Regions from separate parts of the Homo sapiens genome. Here all the other regions are linked to region 1. Evidence: fine-mapped expression QTL. A gene starts in region 1. Each other region holds a variant in brackets. All regions are shown on one strand. Distances are between the middles of the regions. Region 1 holds the start of MLST8 (MTOR associated protein MLST8). Region 2 has its middle 18 kb from the start of TPSD1. Region 3 overlaps TRAF7 (TNF receptor associated factor 7).

Evidence for each region.
Region 2: its variant is fine-mapped to the expression of MLST8 in amygdala (GTEx, PIP 0.94).
Region 3: its variant is fine-mapped to the expression of MLST8 in whole blood (INTERVAL, PIP 0.99).

Annotation. Positions count from the first base shown.
Region 1 is chr16:2,202,865-2,208,358 of GRCh38, reverse strand. MLST8 (MTOR associated protein MLST8) reads right to left here and starts at 2,905. Exons shown (of 9, transcript NM_022372.6): 1 at 2,847-2,905; 2 at 2,145-2,328; 3 at 1,950-2,001; 4 at 1,700-1,862; 5 at 1,249-1,324; 6 at 1,014-1,166; 7 at 25-149. The coding sequence starts at 2,273. RefSeq lists enhancers at 572-1,410, 1,411-2,250, 3,090-3,930 and a silencer at 2,348-2,997.
Region 2 is chr16:1,271,180-1,276,673 of GRCh38, reverse strand. It overlaps the pseudogene TPSP1. Among named protein-coding and RNA genes, the nearest start is that of TPSD1, 18 kb to the right of the region's middle. The variant A/C (reference allele first, on the strand shown) is at 2,256.
Region 3 is chr16:2,163,190-2,168,683 of GRCh38, reverse strand. TRAF7 (TNF receptor associated factor 7) reads right to left here. Exons shown (of 21, transcript NM_032271.3): 2 at 4,683-4,801; 3 at 2,748-2,805; 4 at 516-607. The coding sequence starts at 4,763. Among named protein-coding and RNA genes, the nearest start is that of TRAF7, 10 kb to the right of the region's middle. RefSeq lists enhancers at 2,757-3,529, 3,530-4,303, 4,713-5,212, 5,213-5,494. The variant C/G (reference allele first, on the strand shown) is at 2,612.

The DNA of each region.
Region 1 (5,494 bases):
CGGGCCAGCAGGCCCTGCACGCACGTGGAGTCGGGGCTGAAGCGACACTGCAGGGCGTAGCGCGTGTGGGCAGGGATCTTAGTCTTGGGGATGAGCTGGGTCACCTCGTCACCAATGCCCCCCGTCAGATTCCAGACATAGCAGTTTCCCTAGAGGTCAGGAGGACCGTCACGGAGGGCCCAAGGCCTCAGGTCTGAGACACAGGGAAGGATGCCCTGGGGGCCAACACTGGGGGCCAACTGTGCATGGGGACCCCGGGTGAGGGGCAGGCAGGCCCCTCTGGTCCTGCCTGCAGAAGGCACCTGGGAAGCCTGGCCCCAAGCAAGGGCCACACCTGGCAAGCCAAGAACAGGAGGCCACGCCTGGCCAAGGACTCAAATTCTCCTTCCTGGAGGATGCCGATGGCCAACGGAAGTAGACAGGAGAAGGGCACCAGCTAGAGAGACAGCATGACAAAGGCCAGCAGAAGGGAAATCCGGGGGCAAGAGGTACAAGTGATGCACTGGGATTAAATGAAGTTAATGAAAAAAAATGAGGCTGGAGAGAAGAGCAGGGGCCACGCCACAGCAGCCTACGGGCGAGGCCAGCAGCCCCGGGTCTCCTCAGGGGAATGACGCCACCTGGCTGATACTGACCAGGCACCACTAGAAGCATCCAAGAGAGAACGTGTCAGGGGCCAGGGGAGGTCAGGGAGGGGGAAAGGAAGCCTCAGAGAGTGTGTCAGCCGTCACCAGAAACAAGGGTGACTGGGACCAGGAGGCAACAGAGTGAAAAGAGGGAAGTGGATCGACTTGGGAGAGACTCCAGAAAGCGGAGTGACCGACCTGCAGACAGGACTAAGCCATCGGGAGCGACACTAAGGCTTCTGGCTTTGCTGGCAAGGTGGGTGTTAGTGCCCGGGATGGGGAAAGCAGGAGGGGGCCGCTAAGGGACATCCAGGAATAAGCCCACCTGCAGAGGCTGAGGGCTGAGTGCCAAGCTGCCCGCACCCAGCACCTGCCACCAGGACTCACGGTGCTATTGACAGCTGCCATGTAGCTGGCGTCGGGATCGATGTGGGCGGACGTGATGGAGACCTCGGGCTCAGGGATCAGCTGCTCGTTGTGGTCTGTTTTCAAGTCCCAGATGTGGATAGCCCCGCTCTGGTCACCCACGATGAGCTCTGCCTGGGGTGCAGGGGTGGTGAGGCAGGGCCCAAGCCCAGCCCTCCAAAGTCCCAGGGTGCCTGGCCCCATGAGCACCCCTCACCTGGTTGGGGTGCAGGCACACGCAGTTAATGGGTGCGTTCACCTGGAAGATCCGCTGGCACTGCAGGTTCCGGGACCTGCGGGCCGGGCCGGGGCACATGCTGTCCATCTGGGCTTGTTGGTGCCCTACCCAGATGGCCTCGGCCTGGCCATTCCTCCCCTCCCTCTGCTGAAGGACCTGCCTCTTGGGAAATACTTGGGACGCAGGGCCCTCTGCTCCAGCAGGGAGCCTAAGCCAGTGGCTGGTGGAAGGGGAATAACAAGCTGGCTCCGGGCTCAAGGCAGGACTCGCGCTCTGATGCAATTCACTCTCCTCCTGTCCTCACTTCTCTCAGTAAGTCGCCCACAGGAAGCTCCCTGTCTCAGCCTCTGCTTGAAGAGAACCCAACCTAAAACGGTCTCCCAGAGCAGCCCACCCCAGCCCCGGGCAGCACGCCCCCTCCCCACCGCACCTGAGGTCCCAGATCCTGGCTGTGCAGTCCTCGCCGCCCGTGTACATCCAGCGGCCGTCTTCGTGGAAGCCCACAGACGCGATGTTCTTGTTGACGCCGTCGTAGCTGATGATGGGGTTAGGGTTATTGGAGTTGAGATCATACATGCGGATGTGCTGGTAACCTAGGGACACAGGCTGAACTGAAGCTTGGCTGTGCTGAGGTCGACCCACCAGAGCTCAGGAGTTTAGAGATCAAGGATCACAGATACCTGCAGCAGCAATCATGCTGCGGTCCGGTGTGACCTCCAAGGCATTCACCTGCTGGGACTGTTAAGGAGGATGACGGGAAGGTAGCCCTGAGGCCAGGGCCCCCCAGGCCTCCACCATCTGGCCTTCACACAGGCTGTGGTCCCCACACGAGGCATCCCCCCAGCGCCGCCCTGCCCGCCCCGGGTGGAGGATACGGAGTCCTGGTGCTGCACCGTCCGGGTGCAGATGCCGCTGTGGGCCTGCCAGAAGCGCACGGTGTGGTCGTAGCCTGCAGTGGCCAGGATGACCGGGTCACTGCCCACCGTGCCTGGGGAGGTGTTCATGGTGTGGCCTGCACGGGCCCTAGAGCTGAACGGCAGGGGTCAAAGGTCAGAGCATCTGCAGAGAAGGATGTGAAGTACTTAGAAGACACTCTCTGTGCTAAGTAGATTATAGACCCACAAGGCGCTGCCGAATGGCGCTTATCATTCCCATTTTAGAGTTGGGACAAGAAGCGCAGGTAGGTTCAGGGACACGCGTCACACGCGTGATACCTGGCTCCGGGGCTCCAGGGCGCGTGCTCCATCCCCGCCCCACGCACACGGCGGGGGCGCCGTCCCCCCCCCACCTCCGCAGCCGGCAGGGGGGAGTCACGCGCGGGCGCCACTCTGCCGCAGGGGCGGGCTGCGCGTGCGCAAGGCGGCGGATGGGCCGGGGAAAGCCGAGCGCTGCGGCTGCGCATGCGTAGCAGGCCAGCGGCAGGCCCTGATGGGAAAGGGCGCAGTCTGGCTGGACCCCCGAGCTCCCCTTTCCTCCGGTGACCGCCCTTGCTCCGTCCTGCTGGCCGGCTTCCCCTGGCCGTGCTCTCCCAGCCACCCAGCAGCCGGTTCCCGGCCCCTGGCTCGCGGCCTCCGTACCTTACGGGCGGCTCCGCACTCCGCCGTGTCCAGGACGGCGAGGGGAGCCGGAGCGAGTCGATCGAGGCCGAGCGTAGAGTTATCGATGGCTCCCTAGGGCGAGACCATGGCGCGGGCGGGGGTGGGTGGGACGAGACCAAAGTTCTGGGGCGGGGGGTTCCCGCCGGGAGGAACTCGGAGCGGTCCCCGTGCGCGGCCGCGGGCCCGGCGCGAGGTGGAAGGAAGCTGCGGCTTTCTCTCCGGCCTCCTGCCCACTGGCACCTGCCCTTCTGACACGGCTGTCCGTTTCCCGGGCTGTCGGGTCGCGCTGTTCCGGTGCCCTCCCTGACCCACTACTGCGCCACGCTGGGCTAGGATTGGCTGAAAATTACAGGACTTGAATTCAGACAAGTAACGAATAATTTTTTTTTTAGTGTAAGTATATCCAGGACATTGCATGGGAAATACTTATGCTAAAAAAATTTTATTGGGTATCCTGTAGTTTTACTTGCTAGATCTGGCACCCCAGCCCCAGCCTGACCCTCAGGACATCCCACTGAGCCCAGGGTCCCCCTCAAAACCACAGGCCCTCATTCCAGCTCTGTGAGCTCCACGCCGGTGCCCTCACCCTTGAGACAGGCTGTCGCATGGTTTTTTCCTGCTGCTCTTACAGACCTGGCTGCACCCCTTCCTCTGGCCGCAGAGGGGGTGCATCTTGTCCCTTGACCAGGCCATAGTTCCCATGGAGCCTTCCTTCCTATACCTTCACCTCCTCTCCTTCCTGCCGGTTAGCCTTTAAAAAAACACCATAAAACAATCCCAAATTATCTTCTTCAAAGAGCGGTCCTCACCATTTTTCTAGTTCCACGTCCTCACCTCCCACTCATTCCGCAACCCCAGTCATCTGCCTTTTACCCCCAGCTCTCTAGCTCTCCAGTGGAAATTCCTCAAGGTCACTGACAATCTCACTTTGCTAAATCCAGTGGATACTTTTCCTTCTTCCCACCTTTTTTTTTTTTTTCTCTCGAGACAGAGTCTCGCTTTCTCGCCCAGGCTGGAGTGCAGTGGTGCAATCTCGACTCACTGCAAAACCTCTGCCTCCCAGGTTCAAGCGATTTTCCTGCCTCAGCCTCCCGAGTAGCTGGGATTACAGGCACGCACCACCACACCTGGCTGATTTTTGTATTTTTAGTGGAGACGGGATTTCACCATGTTCGCAAGGCTGGTCTCAAACTCCTGACCTCAAGTGATCCGCCTACCTCAGCCTCCCAAAGTGCTGGGATTACAGGCGTGAGCCACTGCGCCCGGCCTCTTCCCACTTCTTCTTTCTTTTTTTTTTTTTTTTTATTGAGACGGAGTCTCGCTTTGTTGCCAGGCTGGAGTGCAGTGGTGCGATCTCGGCTCTCCACAATCTCCACCTCCCGGGTTCAAGCTATTCTCCTGCCTCAGCCTCCCGGGTAGCTGGGATTACAGGTGCATGCCACCACACCCAGTTAATTTTTCTATTTTTAGTAGAGACAGACTTTTCACCATGTTGGCCAGGATGGTGGATGGTCTTGATCTCGTGACCTCGTGATCCGCCCCCCTCAGCCTCCCAAAGTGCTGGGATTACAGGCGTGAGCCACTGCGCCCGGCCCCCTCCCACTTCTTGACGCATCTGAGCCATGGTTGACGGCACCATGCCTGAAAGGCTGCCTTCTCCTAGCTCCTGTCCCCGACATTTAGTCTCTTTCCCTGCCTGCCCGCAAGGACTCAGGCCCTTCAGCATTCACTCTGTGCACCCCACGAGATACCAGGGGGCTGATGACTGCTAGCTCTGGAGCTTCCAATGCTGTCCCTGTCCTGGGCCCCTTCCACCCTGTCTCCAGCTCTGATGGCCTCAGCTCCCTGTTAAGACACTGTCCCTTGAATGCCCCGCAGGGTCCACCATATTCCAGGGCCAAGACAACCCATCCCTGAGTAGCTCCCCTTCTGTGGGCAGTGCCCACCTTGTATTACAGCTGGGCAAGATCCGACACCTCCCCTCCCTCACCCTTCCCTTCCCTTCAGCCACCGATTTTACCTGTGATATACCTTCCTGTCCTTTCCACTGCCCTGGTTCTAGCTCACCACCCCCATCCCCCATAAAAGCCTCCTTCCTTGCCCCAGCCACTCTGGCCCCCTTCCAAACTGTCCACCACAGTGCAGAATGGCCTTTTATTTATTTATTTATTTATTTATTTATTTATTTATTTATTTTTGAGACGGATTTTCACTCTTGTTGCCCAGGCTGGAGTGCAATGGCGCGATCTCGACTCGCTGCAACCTCCACCTCCTGGGTTCCTCAGTCTCCTGAGTAGCTGGGATTACAGGCATGCACCACCATCCCAGCTAATTTTGTATTTTTAGTAGAGACAGGGTTTCTCCATGTTGGTCAGGCTGGTCTTGAATTCCTAACCTCAAGTGACCCACCCACCTCAGCTTCTCAAAGTGCTAGGTTTACAGGCGTGAGCCATCGCGCCCGGCCAGAGTGGCCTTTTAAAAACCTCAGTCTGAGCCCAGCACAGTGATTCATGCCTGTAATCCCAGCACTTTCGAAGGCTGAGGCAGGAGGATCACTCGAGCCCAGAAGTTCAAGACCATCCTGAACAATATAGTGATACCCCATCTCTACAAAAAATTTAAAAATT
Region 2 (5,494 bases), 930 kb after region 1:
GAGTCCAGGTGAGTCCCGACCCCACACAGCCCTCCCTTCCCAGGGGCTCTGCCACCCCGTCCCCAGGATCCAGGGGACACGTGCACGGCCCGGCTCCTGCCCGAGGGCAGGCGTGGGGTGAGGCTCGGGTGGCAGAGGCCGGGCTCCCTGACCTCCTTCTGTTGTTCCCAGCTCCCGTCCCCGAGAATGACCTGGTGGGCATTGTGGGGGGCCACAACACCCCCAGGGGAAGTGGTCGTGGCAGGTCAGCCTGAGGATCTATAGCTACCACTGGGCCTCCTGGGTGCCCATCTGCGGGGGCTCCCTCATCCACCCCCAGTGGGTGCTGACCGCCGCTCACTGCATTTTCCGGTGAGTCCTGGGCCGGGGACCCCACCAAGGGGAGGTGGGAGTGGGGCCGCCCCATACCAGGTCCCTTGAGTAGCCTGGGTCTGTCCTCCCCCAGGAAGGACACCGACCCGTCCACCTACCGGATTCACACCAGGGATGTGTATCTGTACGGGGGCCGGGGGCTGCTGAATGTCAGCCAGATCGTCGTCCACCCAACTACTCTGTCTTCTTCCTGGGGGCAGACATCGCCCTGCTGAAGCTGGCCACCAGTGTGAGAACAACAAACACTCTCGCGGCAGTCGCCCTGCCGTCATAGTCCCTGGAGTTCACTGACAGTGACAACTGCTGGAACACAGGCTGGGGCATGGTCGGCCTGTTGGGTGAGAACCAGAGGGACGTGGGGCGGGCGTGCGGGGGGGTCCTGGGAAGGCTCATGAAAGACAAGCCCTTGGTTTGCACATTCTGGGGTTTCTCTTGCTAGGGTTGGGGTGCAGGGTTCAGGTGAGCTGCCCTGGGGAATTCAAGCTCATAAAACAGGGAGCAAAGAAAATGAGCCTTTGGGGTGGGTGGCAGGAGCCACTGACTGTGCTGTGCGTGTGTGTGTGGAACACGTATCTTACCCATAGACATATTGCAAGACATTTTCTTCATTTTGTGGAAAAGAAAATGGGTTCAAAGAGGGCACGAATTTATCCATCTGTCCATCCCTCCACTGAAGGCTGCAGAGACCCTGAAGCTTTCTTCCTTTCCTGCTTCGGGCCTCTGTTCTTTGAAAGGCAATACCTGGTGCTGTTCTAGAGCGCGTAGATCCCGCCTCCCTTTTCTAGAGTGTGTGCGTAGGTCCTGCCTCCCTTTTCTAGGGAGAAAGAGAGTGTGTGTGTGTGGTCCCATCTCCCTTTTCTAGAGTGTGTGTGTGTGTGTGTGTGTGGTCCCGTCTCCCTTTTCTAGAGTGTGTGTGTACATCCCGCCTCCCTTTTCTAGAGTGTGTGCGTAGGTCCTGCCTCCCTTTTCTAGAGTGTGTGCGTAGGTCCTGCCTCCCTTTTCTAGAGTGTGTGTGTGTGTGTGTGGTCCCGTCTCCCTTTTCTAGAGCGTGTGTGTGTGTGTGTGGTCCCGTCTCCCTTTTCTAGAGCGTGTGTGTGTGTGTGTGTGTGTGGTCCCGTCTCCCTTTTCTAGAGTGTGTGTGTACATCCCGCCTCCCTTTTCTAGAGTGTGTGGGGGTCCCGTCTCCCTTTTCTACAGTGTGTGCGTAGGTCCTGCCTCCCTTTTCTAGAGTGTGTGCATAGGTCCTGCCTCCCTTTTCTAGAGTGTGTGTGTGTGTAGGGTCCTGTCTTCCTTTTCTAGAGTGTGTGTGTAGGTCCCGCCTCCCTTTTCTAGAGTGTGTGCGTAGGTCCTGCCTCCCTTTTCTAGAGTGTGTGCATAGGTCCCGCCTCTCTTTTCTAGAGTGTGTGTGTAGGGTCCCATCTCCCTTTGCTCCCAATTTAAAAGGTATTGGTGGATGGGGGTGGTAGGGTGGTGGGGGAGTGTGTGCGGTGACTCACACCTGTAATCTCAGCACTTTGGGAGGCCAAGGTAGGAGGATCACTTGAGCCTAGGAGTTCAAGACCAGCCTGGCCAACACAGGGAGACCCCATCTCCACAAAAAATTAAAAAATATATATATTGGCCAGGCATGGTGGCTCGCACCTGTAATCCCAGCACTTTGGGAGGCTGAGGCCAGTGGATCATTTGAGATCAGGAGTTCAAGACCAGCCTGGCCAACATGGTGAAACCCTGACTCTACTAAAAACACAAAAATTAGCTGGGCGTGGTGGTGGGTGCTTGTAATCTCAGCTACTCAGGAGGCTGAGGCAGGAGAACTGCTTGAGCCCAGGAGGCAGAGGTTGCACTAAGCAGAGATTGTGCCATTGTACTCCAGTCTGGGCGAC[A/C]GGGTGAGACTCCATCTTAAAAAAATTAAAATTAGCTGGGCATGGTGGTGTAGGCCTGTGGTCCCAGCTACTTGGAAGGCTGAGGCTGGAGGATTGCTTGAGCATCGCTGGAGCCTGGGAGGCGGAGGCTGCAGGGAGCTATGATTATGCCACTGTACCCTACCCTGGCATTTCCCTTCTGGGTTCCTGCAGCTTTAGAGGTGGAGCCCCTTTGACTCCACCTTAGGCTGTGTAGGCTGAGCATCCCAGGTCCTGAGCTGAGGCTGGGGGCAGGGAGGGGTCCTGCCATGGTGCTGGTTGGGGGCCCCTCCTGAGCTGCTCCCGCCACCCGTGGCTTGTCTCTGCAGATATGCTGCCGCCTCCTTACCGCCCGCAGCAGGTGAAGGTCCTCACACTGAGCAATGCAGACTGTGAGCGGCAGACCTACGATGCTTTTCCTGGTGCTGGAGACAGAAAGTTCATCCAGGATGACATGATCTGTGCCGGCCGCACGGGCCGCCGCACCTGGAAGGTGAGACCTGGCGCCTCTCTCCTGCCATCTCTTTTCCTGTCTGCGGCTCCGATGCTGGACTTGGATGTGCAGGGTCCTGGGTCTCTGGTCAAGCTGGGCCTTCTCTGCTCCACAGGGTGACTCAGGCAGCCCCCTGGTCTGCAAGAAGAAGGGTACCTGGCTCCAGGCGGGAGTAGTGAGCTGGGGATTTTACAGTGATCGGCCCAGCATTGGCGTCTACACGTGAGTCCAGACCTATGTGCCCTGGATCCTGCAGCAAATGCACCTCTAAGCCCCAGGCTCCTCCCAGCTCCCCAAGAATCCAGTTCCTTCCTCGTCCTGGCCCCTCCGCTCCCTGCGCCTTCCAGCACCCACCTTCTCTGCTCCTCCATCGCACATGGTCCTCACTCCCCTCCACCTTTTCAGACCTATCACCTTCCTCCCTCACACTGGGAGGAGGAGGCATGGAAGGTGCTTTGAATGGGGGTGAGGTTAGGGATGGAAGTCCTGGAGCCAGTTTGCAGTATCGTCTCGTTAAACTGTTAGCAAGGCAAACCAGAAAGTGGCCAGTGTGTTCCTGAGTGTGGGTGCGGCTGGCGGGCAGTGACCGGGGGCTTCCTGACGTGGGTGCATCTGCTCTGGACAGTTGCACTGTAGAAATGGCTGCTCCAGACCAGACATTCTTTGGTGGTGGAGGGAAATGATGAATGGGGTGGTAAGATCAGGGGAAATATTCTCAGTGATGACTCTACTCTTGGGGGCCCAGCTCCCAGCCCAGCCCTCCACTAAAAGAACAGGTCAGCCTCATTACCAAATTTCAACCATCTACCATCTGTCTACCCATCTACCCGTACTAAATCCATCCACTCATCCAGCCATCAATTCATCCATCCATCCATCCACCCACCTATCCACTAATTAATCAATCCATCCATCCATCCATCCATCCAACCATCCATCCATCCATCCACCTATCTATTGATCTACCCATCCATCCACCCACCCACGAATCTATCCACTCGTCCATCTGTCCATCTGTCCGTCCACCCACCCACCCATCTAACCTGCCCAGCTCTGCCCAGCCCTGCCCAGTGCCCACCTGCAGCCCTGCCCAGCCATGCCCAGTGCCCAGGGCATCTCCAGGGTGTGGCACAGGAGGCTTCTGAGGAAACCCAAGCACGGTTTACATCCCTAGTTGCTGGGCCACTGTTTGCCCTGGGGCATTGGAGCATTTAGCACTGAGACTTCCCATATGGCCGCCCTGTGCCCGCCTCGCAGAAGGTCTGGGACTAGGGCTGGGTCAGGGAGGCTGCTGGGCTGTGACGGGGCACCAGGCATCCTCAACCTGAGATGGGGAAGTCTTCATTCTCCTTTCTCTTGCACCCCCCACCCCCAAGGTGAGGGTCAGGTGAGGCTGAGAAGGCCCCTGAGCACCCAGAGGGGCAGCTACACTCTCCTGCTGGAGAAAGGGGCTTCACGGAGAGGCTGGCCCGGGAGGGGGTCTGAGTCTGGTCCCTTCCGGCTTCACACCGTGAGTGAAGCAGCAGGGATGTTGTCTCTCCCGGCAGGTCCCTCCCACCTCACCCGGAGAGAACCACACAGGGCAAGGGCTAGATGTCTGGGCTCCCCAGTAGAGAGGAGGGGGCCTCTGTATTCAGACAGTGGGGTGCGGGGGGAGATCAGGGACAGATCAGAACTGTGGTGAGGGCCCCGTGCCTAAAGCAGGATGCAGCCTGGACAACGGCACAGAGCCCACTACGCGCAGGTCCCTTTTGCAGCACTGCAGTTGGAGGCAGAGCTGGGCAGGTGCTGGGGTGGGTGCTGCGGCAGCTGGCAGTGTGCCAACCATGCAGAGGCCCAGAGACCAGCTGGCAGGGTGCCAACCATGCAGAGGCCCAGGACCAGCTGGCAGGGTGCCAACCATGCAGAGGCCCAGAGACCAGCTGGCAGGGTGCCAACCATGCAGACGCCCAGAGACCAGCTGGCAGGGTGCCAACCATGCAGACGCCCAGAGACCAGCTGGCAGGGTGCCAACCATGCAGAGGCCCAGAGACATGGGCCAGGGCCAGGAGTGGGTCTGCAGGCCCTTCACCCACGTCACCTGCTACCCGACGGCCATCCCCAGGCCCTTCACCCATGTCACCTGCTACCTGATGGCTGTCCCCAGCACCCTCACCCACGTCACCTGCTACCCGACGGCCGTCCCCAGGCCCTTCACCCATGTCACCTGCTACCTGATGGCTGTCCCCAGCACCCTCACCCACATCACCTGCTACATGATGGCCGTCCCCAGGCCCTTTACCCACATCACCTGCTACCCAATGGCTGTCCCCAGCACCCTTACCCACGTCACCTGCCACCCGACGGCCATCCCCAGGCCCTTCACCCACATCACCTGCTACACGATGGCCATCCCCAGGCCTTCAACCACGCCACCTGCTACACGACGGCCATCCCCAGCACCCTCACCCACGTCACCTGCTACACGATGGCCGTCCCCAGGCCCATCACCCATGTCACCTGCTACACGATAGCTGTTCTCAGGCCCTGCCACAGGGACAAAGGGGCCACCCTGATGAGGGACAGGAATCTCACTGACGTCGCCCCCCCCCCCCCCCCCGCTCATAGAGGATGCAGGCCCACGGATGCGTCCTGTACCTGTCCCTGGGTCATCTCAACGCTGTGACCCACCCTCTCCTGGGTCTGACAGCCTCTGGACAGCCCCTGGGCAGAGCCGTGCCCCACAGGG
Region 3 (5,494 bases), 40 kb after region 1:
ATTCTCCGGCTCCCCCAGCACTTGGCGCAGGTTCCGCAACCCCCACCCCATTGCCTCTGGTGTCCCCACAGCTTAGGTCCACACACCTTTCCCCCCGCCTCATCAGGACCCCTCCTCAAACCCTGCCTGGACCCAGCAACCCCGCTCATTCCCTACCCAGCAGCAAAGGAAGCTTTCAAAGCATGTATTTTATTGTGCTATCCTCCTGACTGAACTTTCTGTGGTTTCCACCTCCCTTAAGATGGAGCCAAATATGCCTCATCCTGGCCTGCAGGTGCCAGGCCCTCTGACCCAGCTGCCCTCACTGGCTGCCCCCTGCCACCCACAGTCCAGCCACAGGAGCCTCCTTTCTCACAGACTTGCCATGTCTGCCGAGGCCTCAGGGTATCCACAGGTGCTCTTCTTCTCCTGTGCCTCACCAGCTCACTGTCAACTCCTCCTGGGACCTGGTTCCCCCAGGAGGGAGGATGGGGGGAGGCTGAGGCTCACACGGGCTCCTGGGGGTAGGGACCTACCATGCTGTCCTCCTCGTCCCGCGGGGAGTAGGCAAGGGTGCTGGAGGAGGAGGGTGTCCTGCAGTGCTGCTTGTAGGTGCTGGTCCCGTCAGCTGCAAGGCAAGAGGGCTGGCGTCTCAGTGGGGGCTCCCTCAGCAGATGTGGGGGAGGTGGGGCCCATGCTGGATACCCGACCCTGTGGGTCCCCTGTAGCTCACAGCCCTCCCCAGGGCCAGGCAGGCAGGAAAGCATGCAGGGATGGCACGGGGGAAGCTTGGGTTCCCTCTCAAGGTCAAACCAGTGCCAGGAGCATGGACGCTGGGCTCGGTCTACATCTGGACAGTCCCAGCGCTGAGCCCGGTAGCCCCTGCCCCAGCCCTGCCTACCCCAGGCAGGGTCTTCTTTCAGGGCCTCTACAAGCTCCCCAGCACCCCAATTGAGCCAGCTGAGGCTCATGGCCAGCACGCAGCCATCACTCTGAAGGCCGCCTGGCAGCAGCTGGGGGTGCCATTTTATTTGCCTCTTGAGGCACCTCTGCCAGGTGAGTTCCCTGACAGCCTCCACTCACAGAGGGGGAAGCTGAGGTTGAGGTGTGGGCTGGGATACAGAAGGGCCAGGACCGCATCCTGGTGTCCCTGGCACAGCCAGGACCAGGAAGTGGCCCCAGCTTTGGTGGCCTCCTCTGGGGCAGGAGCTGAAGTGCCCTCCCTCCTCCTGCCCACACGTCACCCCAGCTTGGCCAGGGCCAGAGGGCAGGGCTACCGGCCGGTCAGTCCACGTGGGAGGCAGAGAGAGACACCTCCCGGACTCAGGACCAGCCCAGCTCAGATGTCACGATGAGCCCTGGGCTCGAGATTGAGGCCTCGAGAGGCTGCCGTGTGACTGGGCCTCGGTTTCCCCATCTGTCATGAGGGGCCAGGTGAGGTACCTGTGGGCGCCCTGCTGCCTGGCTCTGCCCATCCCTGCCGCCGAGGGGCCAGGCATAGCAGCCGTGCCCTGCCCCATCATGGGTACCTTCCGCCGTGTGACAGGGGCCATGGGGCTTCTAAGGGTAGATGAAAAGGCACCGTTTTTTGGGGGGTAGGATTAGAAAAAAAAAGAGGGCCCCTGGAGAGCCCCTGAGGGGATCACCAGCAGCAAAGAGGCGCTACTGTAAGCAGGTGTCCTTGGCGGCCCTATGACCCCATGGCCAGGTTTATCAGAGCAATTAAAAAGCTAATTAGCAGCCAGTGTGCTTCTACAAAGGGCAGAGTGCCAGAAAGGAGAGAGAACAAAGTCACCCCAGAACCCCACCCCGGAATGAGGGTCCCTGGCCCTGCACCTCGGGAAGAAGGCACTGCCACTTCCGCATGGTCTCCCTGAGCACGGCGCTTGCGTTCAAAGCGCAGCACTCTGGTTTTTAGGGGATAGGACTGAGAAGCAGCAGGGAAGCTTCAGGTTTCTGTCGTGTATCCCGCCCAGTGGTCTTGTGCAGGTGAAGATTTATTGGGCTTGGCTTGCTGGCTCATGCCTGTAATTCCAGCACTTTGGGAGGCCAAGGCAGGAGGATCACGTGAGCCCAGGAATTTGAGACCATCCTGGGCAACATGGTGAGACCTCATCTCTACCAAACATAAAAAAAATTAGCCAGGTGTGGTGGTGCCTGTGGTCCCAGCTACCTGGGAGGCTGAGGTGGCAGGACTGATCCCAGGAGGCACAGGTTGCAGTGAGCCAAGATTGCGCCACTGCATTCCAGCTTGGGTGACAGAGTGACACCCGTCTCAAAAAAACAAACCAGACTTATGGATCTCTTCCACTCTCCCTCCCTTCCTATTAACATGTCACAACTGCAGCACTGTTACTGAAGCCCTAGGGCCAAACTCAAGAGAAGACCTCCGGGCACACGGGACCTTTCGGAGGCTGGCCAGGAGCCTGAGACTGGGGACAAGCTGGGGATCACTGTGACAAGGGACAGGGCTGTGTGGTGGTGCTGGAGATGTCAGGGCAAGCCTCCCTAGAGGGGATGAAGAGGGCAGGGAGAGAGGGCACAGCACAGTCACCGAGGCACAAGGAGCAGGACACCCGACTCCTGTCCAGTGGGGAGGCCCAGGGCTGAGAGGCTGTGAGGACACAGGCTG[C/G]GGTGTGAGGCTGCCCGCGCCCAGCACTGGCACCCAACACCAGCTCACCGGGAAGTGTCCCTCAGTCCTTAGCAGGGTGGGCATGGGGGTGCCCCGGTTATTCCCAGCCTGGGCTGGCCTTGGCTTAAGGGCTCACCTTTTGTGATGGTGGTGACGGCTGAAAAGGCGGGTCCGAAGGTCGTTTCCATTCTGGTCTAGAGGGAGGACGGAGGAGACCTGGCCTCATTCCGGGACACAAGGAGGACGTGCACATGTGGAGCCCACTCACATGCCTAACACGCGACCAGGCCAGGCCACGCAGCACTCACACACTTAACCATGCGACCAGGCCACGCCACGCAGCACTCACACGCTTAATCATGCGACCAGGCCGCGCCACGCAGCGCTAACACGCTTAACCATGCGACCAGGCCAGGCCACGCAGCACTCACACGCTTAACCATGCGACCAGGCTGCGCCACACAGCACTCACACGCTTAACCATGCGACCAGGCCAGGCCACGCAGCACTAACACGCTAAACCATGCGACCAGGCCAGGCCACGCAGCACTCACACGTTTAACCATGCGACCAGGCTGCGCCACACAGCACTCACACGCTTAACCATGCGACCAGGCCAGGCCACGCAGCACTAACACGCTTAACCATGCGACCAGGCCAGGCCACGCAGCACTCACACGCTTAACCATGCGACCAGGCCGCGCCACGCAGCACTCACACGCTTAACCATGCGACCAGGCCGCGCCACACAGCACTCACACACTTAACCATGCGACCAGGCCGCGCCACGCAGCACTAACACGCTTAACCATGCGACCAGGCCGCGCCACGTAGCACTAACACGCTTAACCATGCGACCAGGCCAGGCCATGCAGCACTCACACGCTTAACCATGCGACCAGGCCAGGCCACGCAGCACTCACACGCTTCAGCATGCGACCAGGCCAGGCCACGCAGCACTCACACGCTTAACCATGCGACCAGGCCAGGCCATGCAGCACTCACACGCTTCAGCATGCGACCAGGCCAGGCCATGCAGCACTCACACGCTTAACCATGCGACCAGGCCAGGCCACGCAGCACTCACACGCTTAACCATGCGACCAGGCTGCGCCACACAGCACTCACACGCTTAACCATGCGACCAGGCCAGGCCACGCAGCACTAACACGCTTAACCATGCGACCAGGCCAGGCCACGCAGCACTCACACGCTTAACCATGCGACCAGGCTGCGCCACACAGCACTCACACGCTTAACCATGCGACCAGGCCAGGCCACGCAGCACTAACACGCTTAACCATGCGACCAGGCCAGGCCACGCAGCACTCACACGCTTAACCATGCGACCAGGCCGCGCCACGCAGCACTCACACGCTTAACCATGCAACCAGGCCGCGCCACACAGCACTCACACGCTTAACCATGCGACCAGGCCGCGCCACGCAGCACTAACACGCTTAACCATGCGACCAGGCCGCGCCACGTAGCACTAACATGCTTAACCATGCGACCAGGCCAGGCCACGCAGCACTCACACGCTTAACCATGCGACCAGGCCAGGCCACGTAGCACTCACACGCTTAACCATGCGACCAGGCCAGGCCACGCAGCACTAACACGCTTAACCATGCGACCAGGCCAGGCCACGCAGCACTCACACGCTTAACCATGCGACCAGGCCGCACCACGCAGCACTAACACGCTTAACCATGCAACCAGGCCGCGCCACGCAGCACTAACACGCTTTACCATGCGACCAGGCCAGGTCACGCAGCACTCACACGCTTAACCATGCGACCAGGCCGCGCCACGCAGCACTCACACGCTTAACCATGCAACCAGGCCGCGCCACACAGCACTAACACGCCCCAACCACACACGCACGCGTGCGCGCGCGCGCGCGCGCGCGCACACACACACACACACACACCACACCCCCCCCCACCGAGCTCCCCTGAGACCCCAGCTCGGGACGGGACTGCGCTGGGAGCTCTGCAGGCAACACCAGATCCCTGGGGCATGCTGGGGGTCCTGGGGATGTTGGGCTTGCAGAGGGGCACACCCTTACCCCTGTGGTGACGTCTGGGGTGGGAAGATTGCTGGGCCCCCCGGAGAAGCGGTTGTAGCGGGCACTCTTGCCTGAGCTCATGCTCTAGAGAGGCATCTACGGTCCTTGGGAAGCACCTCCTGTGGGTGGAGCACAAATGAGGGGCTTGAGAGATGGAGCCCAGGCCCCTGTGAGTCAGACGGGCTGCTGCAAGTGTGCAGACCTGCTGTGGGGCACCGTGGGGCCGCCGCAGCAGCCTTCCACCACCAGCCCCGGCTCAGGCAGGCCTCTAGGAGGCAAAGGTCCTTCACCCCGATCCCAGGTATGCAGAGGCCCGGGCAGGCAGGCGGCTCTGCGTCACCGTCCCTCAAGGCTTAGCCTTTCTGAGCTCCCGAAGAGCCCATCCAGCTCTTCCCCGAGGTGGAGGGACCCCTGCCTGGCTCCCTCTACTCCTCTGGGTCCTGAGTCACAGCCAGTCACCTCCAGGCTGAATGTCCCTGGGGCCAAGGCTGGGCCTTGGTGGGTAGGCCCAGGGTGTGGCCCACGTGGCGGGACGCAGTCACACAGGGACCAGCCAAGGCACGACGAATGTGTTTCCTGCCACGACAGGTGCGGTCAGGACCCAGCCAGCACCAGGCTGCAGCGGGGAGACACCAGCCACACCCCAGAGAAAGAACCTGCAGGGTGAGTCACCGGAGCCCAACTCCACACAAACCGCACTGCACGGAAAAAAGCACAGGAGAGAGATGAGCCCGCCCCTGGAACCCGTGCAGGTCACCCACACTCCCAGCCACGCCACAGGGGCTCAGGGGCTGGTGGGTGGGGGGGCAGGG